Linked DNA regions of Homo sapiens: region 2 is linked to region 1. Evidence: fine-mapped expression QTL. A gene starts in region 1. The other region holds a variant in brackets. All regions are shown on one strand. Distances are from middle to middle. Region 1 holds the start of MAP3K2-DT (MAP3K2 divergent transcript). Region 2 has its middle 24 kb from the start of CYP27C1.

Region 1 (5,377 bases):
TTTAGAAATTTTTAGCAATAAATAATTTTTTAATTAAGGTATATACTTTTTTTAGACATAATGCCATTGCACACAATAGACTACAGTATATTGTAAACATAACTATATGCACCGTGAAACTAAAAAGTTTATGTGACTCACTTCTTTTCCTTTATTGCAGTGGTCTGGAACCAAAGCCACAATCTCTCTAAGGTATGCCTGTACATGTACCTATAGATAAAGCAAATATGGCAAGATAACAACAAATGTTTAATCTAGAGGGTCAAGATACAAGTGGTTTACTATTACCAAATTTTCTGTATGCTTGAAATTGTTTGATAATAAAAAGTGGGAGGTGGGGGGAAATAGCTCCAATTCTATAGGGAAAGAGAAAATCAACCTGAAACCAACGCTGTAGGAAATGCAGAGTATCAAACATGACTTTATTTTAATACAGCACCTGTTAGTTTAACCCTTTGGTACCAATAAAGTAAACTAGAAACAAAAGCTCCCCCTAAAACATTGCTTATAAGACTCAGTCTCTAATGCAATCCAATTATTTAAGATAAGCCTTTAACAGCTAGTTTCTCAAAAGAGGCACATGGATAACCATTCTATAATGATATCATATACAACATAATTCAATAAGATTCAACATGTTTATATTTTAACCAAACAACAAATCAATCTGTAAACCATCCACATGTTAACTTTGTAATTTCACCTTTTCTCCACAGAGACTGCAAGACCACAAATTTTCTTCAACTTGATAATATACTAGGAAAATTACAGAGTAATATAACTGGGCATCAATAGATTTGTTAAACATTTGCAATTATGCATAGAGCTTCAATTACTCAAAGGAAATGTATCGACTTTTTTTCAGTACAGAGCTCTGGCTCCTTATTTTTTCCTCTCACCATAGTTTTAAAAAATACAAAACTCATGCTAAAATGAGAATTTTCAGTTAACTTATAAACACTGACTAGTAGCACTCCATACAAATGAAAAAGAATCACACCATCAAACTTCCTACGATATTCTACGCATTAAAATTTGACATCGAACTAAAAAAGATTGCATAAGACAACGAACAAATCACTAAATTGCCACATAATCCAGCAACAAATTTTGCAACAAGGAAATCTCAAGCAAATAACCCAACTGTGAGTTCCCTTTGGGCATCAAGGTCAAACTACAAAAGTAAATTTGTGACTTTTCAAGATCTATGCAGTTTTACCAAATGTATTTATTTTTTGTGAGAGAATAATTTTTTTCTGTCCAGTACTAGTACATAAAAAGTAAAGGTATCTGAAGCCATCTTTTAAATTTTTTTTAAAGCCAAGAAAATGATTTGGCAAAAGATATCGAAGAGCTTACGTTAGGGAAAACTAAACTGTATCTGTCTATGTGTTTAGAATTTATCCCATTAAAGAAACTGCCCAGTTAGTCTCATTTTCTAAACGTATTTATTTTTTGCAAGACGAGAAATACAGTCTTACAAAAAGACATCTGCATATTCGAACCAAGCCTTCCTGGATTACTACCTTCATGACCTTGGACAAATGCCTTAATCTCTCTGAGCCTCAAGTTTTCACCTGCAAAATGGGGCAATTTACCCACCTCATTGAGCTGGGAAGATGAAGAGAGATAATGCATGACAACTGCCGGGCGCAGACTAAGAGCACCCTAAGTGCTACCTAAATATTCCGTAAAGAGAAAAGGGGGAAACAACCTTACATCAAAAGATTACCACACTGTGACAGTGCAAAGACAAGCACTTTTTCGCTTACTGCATGTACCATTTCTGCTTCATCCCAAGACCAGATGCAACCTTTCTTCTAAAATCTCTGCAGGGTACGTGTCTGACAGCTAACACAGCCCAGCAGCCTACTTCGCGCTGACCTGGGCTTTAGGACTGGATGCAGGGGGCCCAAGGTCCGCCCTCCCGCAGCTAGGCAATCACCCAGCGAAATCTCCGCCCCTGGAGCGGCGCTTAGGCCGCCGCCAGCCCCCCTCCCGGCGCCCAGCCCGCGGCCCCCGACACACACGCGCGCACACACACACACACACACACACAAGCGCGCGCGCACGCACACACGCACGTACCGGCTGCTCCGCAGGGACGTAGAGAGCCGCAGGCCCAAGGAGGGGCCGCCCCCGCCGAGCCCGCCCCTCCGCCCCAGCGCGGCCTGTCACCGCGGCCCCAGGTCGGGGGCTGCCGCAGGGCCCCCGGGGACCGGAGGGGCGCGCGAGGAGTCGGGCGCGGGCCTTGGGGCCAGGCCCGTCCCTCTTTCACATGAAGCCCGGGCCGGGCGGGGTGGCGGGCGCGTGAATCCTCGCAGCCGGCCGGGTCCTCCTGGCGCTCCTCGGCACTTCTAGCCGCTGCAACCCCGAGGCCCGCGGGAACTGGGCAGGAAAGGAGGAAGCCGCGGGCCCGCGTCGCTAGAGACCGGAGAAGAGGCGGGAGTGGCGACTCTGCGGACAGGGGCGCCGAGCGTCCTGGTCGTTGTTTTCGTCGCCGCCGCGGGCCGTGCAACCCCCGAACGCTGCGCCCAGCGGCCGCGGCACCCTCGTCAGGCGCCGCCGCTGAGGGCAGGCAGCCCGGCAGCCACTACACACGGACCCGTGACGTCGGGCGTAGCGCGGCGCACGTCACGGCCGCTCGCTCGTGCGCGCGCACCCCTCCGCCCGGCGGTAGCGGAACCCGCCGCGGGCGCGCGCCCGGCCCAGGGGAGTGGGTCGGCGCCTGCGCAGAGGCCCGCCACGCCCACACACAGGCCACCGCCCCCACCGGCCGGACGGCGCGGGGATTCCCAGTCCTGGCTCCGCCCCGGCCTCGGCCCCGCCCCCGCCCCTGCCCCGGGGCAGCCTGTGCTGTTCCGTGTGCGCGGCGCATACGCACCTGGGTTGTCTCGAGCCTGCGGTAGTGGCCAGATCCCAGACATCCGAGTAGATCCCGTGAAAAGGTCTCCCACGTGGGCTGTGGACAGGGCCCAAGGGTAGCAGAGCTAGCAGAGGCAGTGACGGACTGTGTGGCAGGTCATTTGCAAGGAGAAAAGCCGTCTGCCTCTTAATTTGTGGCTCAAGTTTCAGAATTTTTTTCCTGAGGGACTTTAGAAATTACTTCAGGCTTGCCACCTAACCTTAAACCACCCCCTTGGAGACTGGCTAAGTGTTATTTGTGTTTTCTGTTTAGTTCTTATCACCATCGATACTTGGTTATGACTGGTTGTGTACATTGGTTAGCCCAGCAAGTATTACTTCTCCAGCTTAACAGATGTGGAAACTTAAGCCCAGAGACATGAGTTGACACCCCACCCCCAAAGCTAGAGTCTAAAACCCTTTCTTTCGCTCCTCATCTCCCACAGGATAAAATGCAAATTAATCAGACTAGTGGTGAGGCCCTCCGTGGTGTGACTAACCTGCATCCCGACGTTTTCACCCTACTTTGATCCAGAAAGCACCTTTCCGCCCCATCTCTTCTCCTTTCCTTAAATACCCCTTACAACTTCCTGTACCATTCTTCCCTGTTCAGCTTCTTCTTGGTTTCTTCGTACATTCTGGATCCACCCCTTTCATGCATATTCCAGACCACATTTCCACTGGAGCAGTTGAAATGAGAGAGATGGGAATGGGACTCACCCGAACCAGAGGTAAGGAGCTACCCAACTTGGGCTCTGAGGGTCAAGGGAGCTGGCACTTGTGGGGCAGAGACTGAGGGAGAAACTGTTGTGTAATGTCAAAATATCTCTGGGTTTCTTCCAGGAATTTTTATTACAGACCCATTAACAGAGGTGTCAAAGTCACAGGAACAAGGATGTGCACCTCAGAAACACAGAGGTCAGTGGAAAATCAGTTTGCTTCTATTTGTTTAAAAAATGGGGGACTTATGCATAAATCTAAGACCTTCTTGAATCTAACATTCTAAGACCTGTATGCCACAGAAAGGAGGGTCTCAGAACGCCGGAGGATAGTATTTAAATCTTAAATATCTATATTGTTCTCCACAGTTACTGGGTCACCACATAGCAGGCATTCAATAAAAACGTGTTTGTTTACTAAGTAATCTAGAGATAAATTTTTTCCCCTCATAGTGCTGCTCATTTCTCCACTCCCTTCCCTCACTTACCACCCCGGGGACTTCATTCACCTCTGGGTTCCTCAGAAACATCCCGTGGGTATAGTTATAGTAGCTATTCTTTCTTTTTCGCCATTCTCCTTTTATATTGGTGACTTTTCCTCTTGCTTAGATATTAAATCTCTGACATCTTTGGTTATTTTAGTATATATGATTACAAATTAGTGATATTGGGATTTTTTTATTGATGAAACCATCATTCAATGAATATTTTTTTGCCTTCCTACTCTGTGCCTGGGATTGCAGTGATAAAATTATATAGTCCCCACTGCCCAGGAACTCAGAATCCTGTGAGGAAGGCAGACAGGTAAATGGATAATGATAACACACTGTGACCTGCATCATGGGAGGGATGTGTATCAGGCACCACAGCAGCAAGAGGAAGATGTCACAGGTGTGTCTGGGGAAGTGAGAGATGACTTCAGAGAGGAAATGTGGCATGTTCCTTTTCTGTTGCTGCATAACAAACTGCCACAAACTTAGTGACTTAAAACAGTGTCTGTTTTTTAGCTCCCAGTTATACAGATCAGAAGTTTGCACAGGGGCAAGGCTGAGTTCTCTACTCAGGGTATATTGCAAGGCTGAAATCAAGGTATCAGCTGGGCTGACTTTTTATCTAGAGGCCCTTGCAAAGATCTTCCAAGCTCATTCTTCTTTGGGGCACAATTCAGTTTCCTGTGGTTGTAGGATTGACATCCCTATTTCCTGGGCCTGCCTTCAGTTCCTAGAGGTCACCTGCATTCCTTGCCACATGACCCCTTCCATCTTGAAAGCCAGCGACAGAGACCTTCTTGCGTGCCAAACATCCTCCTACATCAGATCTCTCTCTAACTTCCTCTTTTGCTACCAGCCAGAGAAAACTCTCTGCTTTTATTTTTATTTATTTTTTTATTTTTGAGACAGAGTCTCACTCTGTCGCCCAGGATGGAGTGCAATGGCGCAATCTCGGCTCACTACAACCTCCGCCTCCCAGGTTCAAGTGATTCTCCTGCCTCAGCCTCCTGAGTAGCTGGGATTACAGGCACCCACCCCCACGCCCAGCTAAGTTTTGTATTTTTAGTAGAGACAGGTTTTCACCATGTTGGTCAGGCTGGTCTCGGACCCCTGACCTCGTGATTTGCCCACCTTAGCCTCCCAAAGTGCTGGGATTACAGGCATGAGCCACTGCACCCGGCTTTTAGAGAGTTCATATGATTAGATCAGGCCCACTGAGATAATCTATTCTTAACATCAACAGTGTCACATAACATAACCTGA
Region 2 (5,377 bases), 140 kb before region 1:
AGTCCCTTCCGCTTCTGAGCCTAAATGGAAAGCAAGTTAGTTGCTTCCTAGATACAATGGGGATACAGGAAATGGGTAAATACAACTCTTCTGAATGGGAGAAATTGGCCAATACATAGGAGCCACTGGCCCCATGCAAGTCTGAAATCCAACAGGGCTGTCATTAAACCTTAAAGTTGCAAAATGATCTTCTTTGACTCCAAGTTTCACATCCAGGTCATGCTGATGCAAGTGGGGGGCTCCCATCTTCTTGGGCAACTCTGTCCCCATGATTTTGCAGGGTACAGCCTCCCTCCCAGCTGCCTTCAAGGGCTGGTGTTGAGTGTCTGCAGCTTTTCGAAACACAGAGTGCAAGCTGTCAGTGGATCTACCATTCTGGGGTCTGGACTATGGTGGCCCTCTTCTCACAGTTCCACTAGGCAGTGCCCCAATGGGGACTCTGTGGGGCTCTGACCCCACGTTTCCCTTCCACACTGCCCTAGCAGGGGTTCTCCATGAGGGCTCCACCCCTGCAGCAAACTTCTGACTGGACAGTTATTTCTTACAGTTATGGAAGCTGAGAAGGCCAAGATCAAGGGAATGCATCTGGTGAGAGTCTTCTCACTAGTGGGGACTCTGCAGAGTCCCAAGACAGTGCAGGGTATCATATAGCAAGGGGGCTAAGCATGCTAACATACTAAATCAGGTCTCTCCCATCTGATAAAGCCACCAGCTCCACTCCAATGATAACCCATTAATCCATTAACCCATGATTAATCCATGTGTGAGGGCAGAGCCCTCATGATCCAATGACCTCTTAAAGGCCCCACCTTTCAATAGTGCTACACTAGGGATGAAGTCTCCAACACATAAAATTTGGGGGACACATTCAAACTATGAGCAGTATGCTATCTGATGACAACAGAATGAAACTAGGAATCAATAACAGAAAAATAGCTAGAAAACTCCTAAATATTTGAAGATTACCACAACATACTTCTAAATAACTCATGGATCAAAGAATTCTCAAGATAAATTTTAAAATATTTCAAATTAAACAAAAATGAAAATAAAGGTTATCAAAATTTGTGGGATGCAGCAAAAGCAGTGCTTAAGAGGAAATTTATAGCATTGAGTGTACATATCAGAACAGAATGAAGACCTAAAATCAATAATCTAAGTTTCCACCTTAGGAAACTAAAAAAGAAGAGCAAATTAAATCTAAAGTAGTAAGGAAAATAGTTATAAAAGCTAGAGATAGAAAATAATAAAAAATGAAAGCAGAAATTAATGAGATAAAGAATTTTAAAACAATAGATCCAATTACAATAGATGCAATTAAAATCTGTAATTTTGGGGGAAAATAAAATAGACAAATTACGACCTATATTTACTCAAGAAAAAGAGAAAAAGTACAAATGCACAAAATAAGAAATATCAAATGGGGAAATAACCATTGAAACAGAAGGTATTTTTAAAAACATAACGGGGCTACTTTTCAGACCTCTGTGAAAATACTGACAATCTATATGAAGTGGATAACTTTAAGAGAGATAGAATGTATTGAAATTGACCCCATTTAGAGACAAACAGTTTAAACAGACTAATTTACTTCGAAGAAACAGAGATAATTATCAAGGAACTTTCACATTAAAAAACAAAAACAAAAACAAACAAACAAAAAAACCTCATGGTCTCACAAGGTTTTCTACCAAATCTTCAAAGACCAGGCAGTCACAGTACTTCACAAGTTTTTCCAGATCATTGGGAATGAAGGAACATTCCTGAACTGTTTTTAGAAAATAAGTATAGCATTAACAACTAAACTTGATAAAAACAGCAAAAAAAGAAAATTACAAATATCACTTACGAATATTCATGAAAAAGTTCTAAATAAAACCCTATTTAACAGAATACAACACCACACTATGAAAATGATACAACATAACCAAGTGGGATTTGTTCCTGGAATGCACACTGGCTAAATATTAATAAGTGAACTAACACACTGTATTTACAGATCTAAGGAGAAAAATCATATGTTTATTTCCATAGATGCTTTTAAAAAGCCTTTTCAAATTCCTTACCTACTCCTGTTTAAAGAAACTCAAGAGTGTGTAATTTTTGTTTTTTTAGTAGAGAGAGGATTTCACCGTGCTGCCCAGGCTGATCTGGACCTCCTGTACTCAAGTGATCTGCCTGCCTCAGCCTCCCAAAATGCTGGTGTTACAGGTGTGAGCCACACCCCCTCTCTACTAAAAAAAAAAAAAAAAAAAATTAGCCAGGACTACAGAAGGTGTGAACCTATAGTCCCAGCTACTCAGGAGGTGGAGGCTGCAGTGAGCCATGACTGTGCCACTCACTCTAGCATGGGTGACAGAGTGAGAACTTGTCTCAAGAAAATAAAAAAGAAAATTTTAAAACTCAAGAAATGGCCAGAAGTGGTGGCTCGTGCCTGTAATCCCAGCACTTTGGGAGGCCAAGGCGGTGGATGGCTTGAGGTCAGGAGTTCAAAACCAGCCTGGCCAACATGGCGAAACCCCATCTCTACTAAAAATATAAAAATCAGTCAGGTGTGGTGGAGTGCACCTGTGGTCCCAGCTACTCTGGAGGCTGAGGCAGGAGAATAGCTTGAACCTGGGAGGCAGAGGTTGCAGTGAGCCAAGATGGTACCACTGCACTCCAGCCTGGGTGACAGAGTGATACTGTCTCAAGAAAAAAAAAACCCTCAAGAAAATAAGTTATATTATTCAGAGTATTTTTAGAGATAGGGTCTCACTCTGTTGCCCAGGCTGGAGTGCAGTGGTGTCAGCATAGCTCATTGAAATCTCCAAATCCTGGGTTTTAAGCAATCCTCCCACTTAGACCTCTCGAGTAGATGGGACTACAGGCACAGGCCACCACAGTCAGCTAATTTTTTAATGTTTTTGTAGAGACAGGGTCTCGCTATGTTGCCCAGGCTACTCTTAAACTTCTGGCGTCAAGTGATCTTCCCACCATGACCTCCCAAAGTGCTGGTATTACAGGCATGAGCCACCACCCTTGACCTATCCTTTATTAACATGTAAATACACATATGTGCACTTTCATACACACACACTCCCACCCCAACACATACACTTTTAGTGAAAAAGCCACCAACTCTTTAATGGGGAAGCCCCAGAAACTTTCCACTAAGATCGAGAACAAGATGAATTTGCCCACCATCTCCACTACTAATCAACATTATACTAGAGATATAAGCCCAATGCAATTAGACAAGAAGAATCAATAAGATGCATGAGATTTGAAAAAGTAAAACTATATCTAGCAGATGATACGAGTGTACATACAAAACCCTAGAAAATCAATAAAACTAACAATTCGATAAGGTAGCAAGCTGTA[G/A]AATTATCTTATAGAACTTGATAGCCTTCATATACACAATGATAACCAGTTAGAGTATATAATGGCATGGAAAATGCCATTTATATGGCAAAAAAGAAGATAAAGTATTTAGGAATAAGTACTAATAGGAAATGTACAAAATCCACGAGGAAAATTTTAAAAACATAAAAGTGTACTTGAACAAATTGAAAGACATTTATTGTTCTTTGAATGACTACACATAATAAAAATGTCAGGTCTCCCTAAGTTAACTTATAAATTTAATGTAATCCCAATAAAAAATGCCAGCAAGCTTTTTGAAAAAATGGAACTAGATAAGTTGATGTTAAACTTCATATGGAAAAATAAACATGTAATTTAGGAATAGCCAGGAAATCACTAAAAAGGAAAAGCTATGAAGGTGACTAGCCCAATCAGACATTGAAACATACTATAAAACCTCTATAATTACAACAATGTAGTACTAGCACTTGAATAGGTAAGCAAGTCTATTATAGTTTGTCAAGTCTGTCACAGAAAAAACAGAAATAATTTTAAATACATATGGAACTTTAGTGTATGATAAGAGTAGCAACTGAAATCACTAGGGCAAAAATGCACTTTTAAATAAATGATGCTGGGACAATTGGTTTGCCATTTGGGGGAAAAGATGAAACTGAGCTACACCTCATCACACCTACTGAAAAATAAACTCCAAATGATCAGGAATCTAAATGGAAAATACATCCCTACAAGTATTAGGAGAAAACGAGGTGAATTTCTCTTTAACTTGCATGTAGGGAAAGACATTCTAATTATGACTCAAAATCCAGATTCACTAAATGCACTAAAAACATTGATAAAACTGATTAAATTAAAACAAAAAATGAGGGTTTTTGGCATGGCAAATATCACCATAAGCAAAGTAAAAAGACAGCCAACACACTGGGAGAAAATATTTACAACATATATTACCCCAAAAGCCAGTGGAGAGGCTGGGTGCTGTGGCTCACACCTGTAGTACTCAGCACTCTGGGAGGCTGAGGCAGGTGGATCTCTTGAGCCCAGGAGTTTGAGATCAGCCTGGGAAACAAGATGAGAACTTGTCTCTACAAAACAATAAAAATAATTAGCCAGGCATGGTGGCGCACATCTGCGGTTCAAGCTACATGGAAGGCTGAGGTGGGAGGATCGTCTGAGCCCAGGAGGTGGAGGCCGCAGTGAGTTGTGATAGTGACACTGCACTCCAGCCTTGGTGACAGAGTGAGACCCCGTCTCAAAATAAATAAATAAATGAATAAAGGTTTATTTTTAAAAATGTTTATTTACTTATATTTTGTTTTTCATTTTTAGAGATGAGGGTCTCGCTATGTTGCCCAGGCTGGAGTGCAATGGCTATGCATAGGTGCCATCTCACCATCTTTGAGCATTGCAGCCTCAAATTCCTGGCCCAAGCAATCCTCCCATCTCCCAAGTAGCTGAGACTATAGGCATCTGCCACTGCACTCAGCTTAGATTTTTTTTAACCCGATAGAAAAAAATGGCAAAAGATAAGAATGGGGAATTTATACACAGAAACACACACACACACATACATACACACATACACACACACACATACACACACATATATGAAAGATTTTTCAACCTAATTCATAAGAGAAATGTCAATTAAAACTACACTAAAATACCATTTCTCACCTATAATATTTTCTTTTATTTTGTTTTTTAAGACAGAGGCTCACTTTGTCACCCAGGCCAGAGTGCAGCAGTGCGGTCATGGTTCGTGCCACAACGCCCTGCTAACTTTTTGTGTTTTTGTAGAGATGAGGTTTAACTATGTTGCCCAGGCTGGTCTGGAATTCCTGGGCTCAAGTGACCCACTCGCCTTAGCTGTACAGTGCTAGGACTGTAGGTGTGAGCCACTGCACCAAGCCTATATCTTCAACATTTAAAAAATATAACAATACGCTCTGATGGTAACGCAGTGGATAGACAAGCCTCTCATGCATGGCTAGGGGACATGTGAATAAGT

Evidence for each region. PIP is the estimated chance that this variant, and not a neighbour inherited with it, causes the effect.
Region 2: its variant is fine-mapped to the expression of MAP3K2-DT in whole blood (INTERVAL, PIP above 0.99).

What each region holds. Positions count from the first base shown.
Region 1 is chr2:127,385,364-127,390,740 of GRCh38, forward strand. It overlaps MAP3K2-DT (MAP3K2 divergent transcript), which reads left to right and starts at 2,075. Exons shown (of 4, transcript NR_187129.1): 1 at 2,075-2,189; 2 at 3,518-3,635; 3 at 3,748-3,822. MAP3K2 (mitogen-activated protein kinase kinase kinase 2) reads right to left here and starts at 2,612. Exons shown (of 17, transcript NM_001371910.2): 1 at 2,089-2,612. LOC124906074 (a long non-coding RNA gene) reads left to right here. Exons shown (of 4, transcript XR_007087227.1): 3 at 161-192; 4 at 717-798. RefSeq lists a silencer at 2,032-2,901.
Region 2 is chr2:127,241,633-127,247,009 of GRCh38, forward strand. No RefSeq gene overlaps it. Among named protein-coding and RNA genes, the nearest start is that of CYP27C1, 24 kb to the left of the region's middle. The variant G/A (reference allele first, on the strand shown) is at 3,364.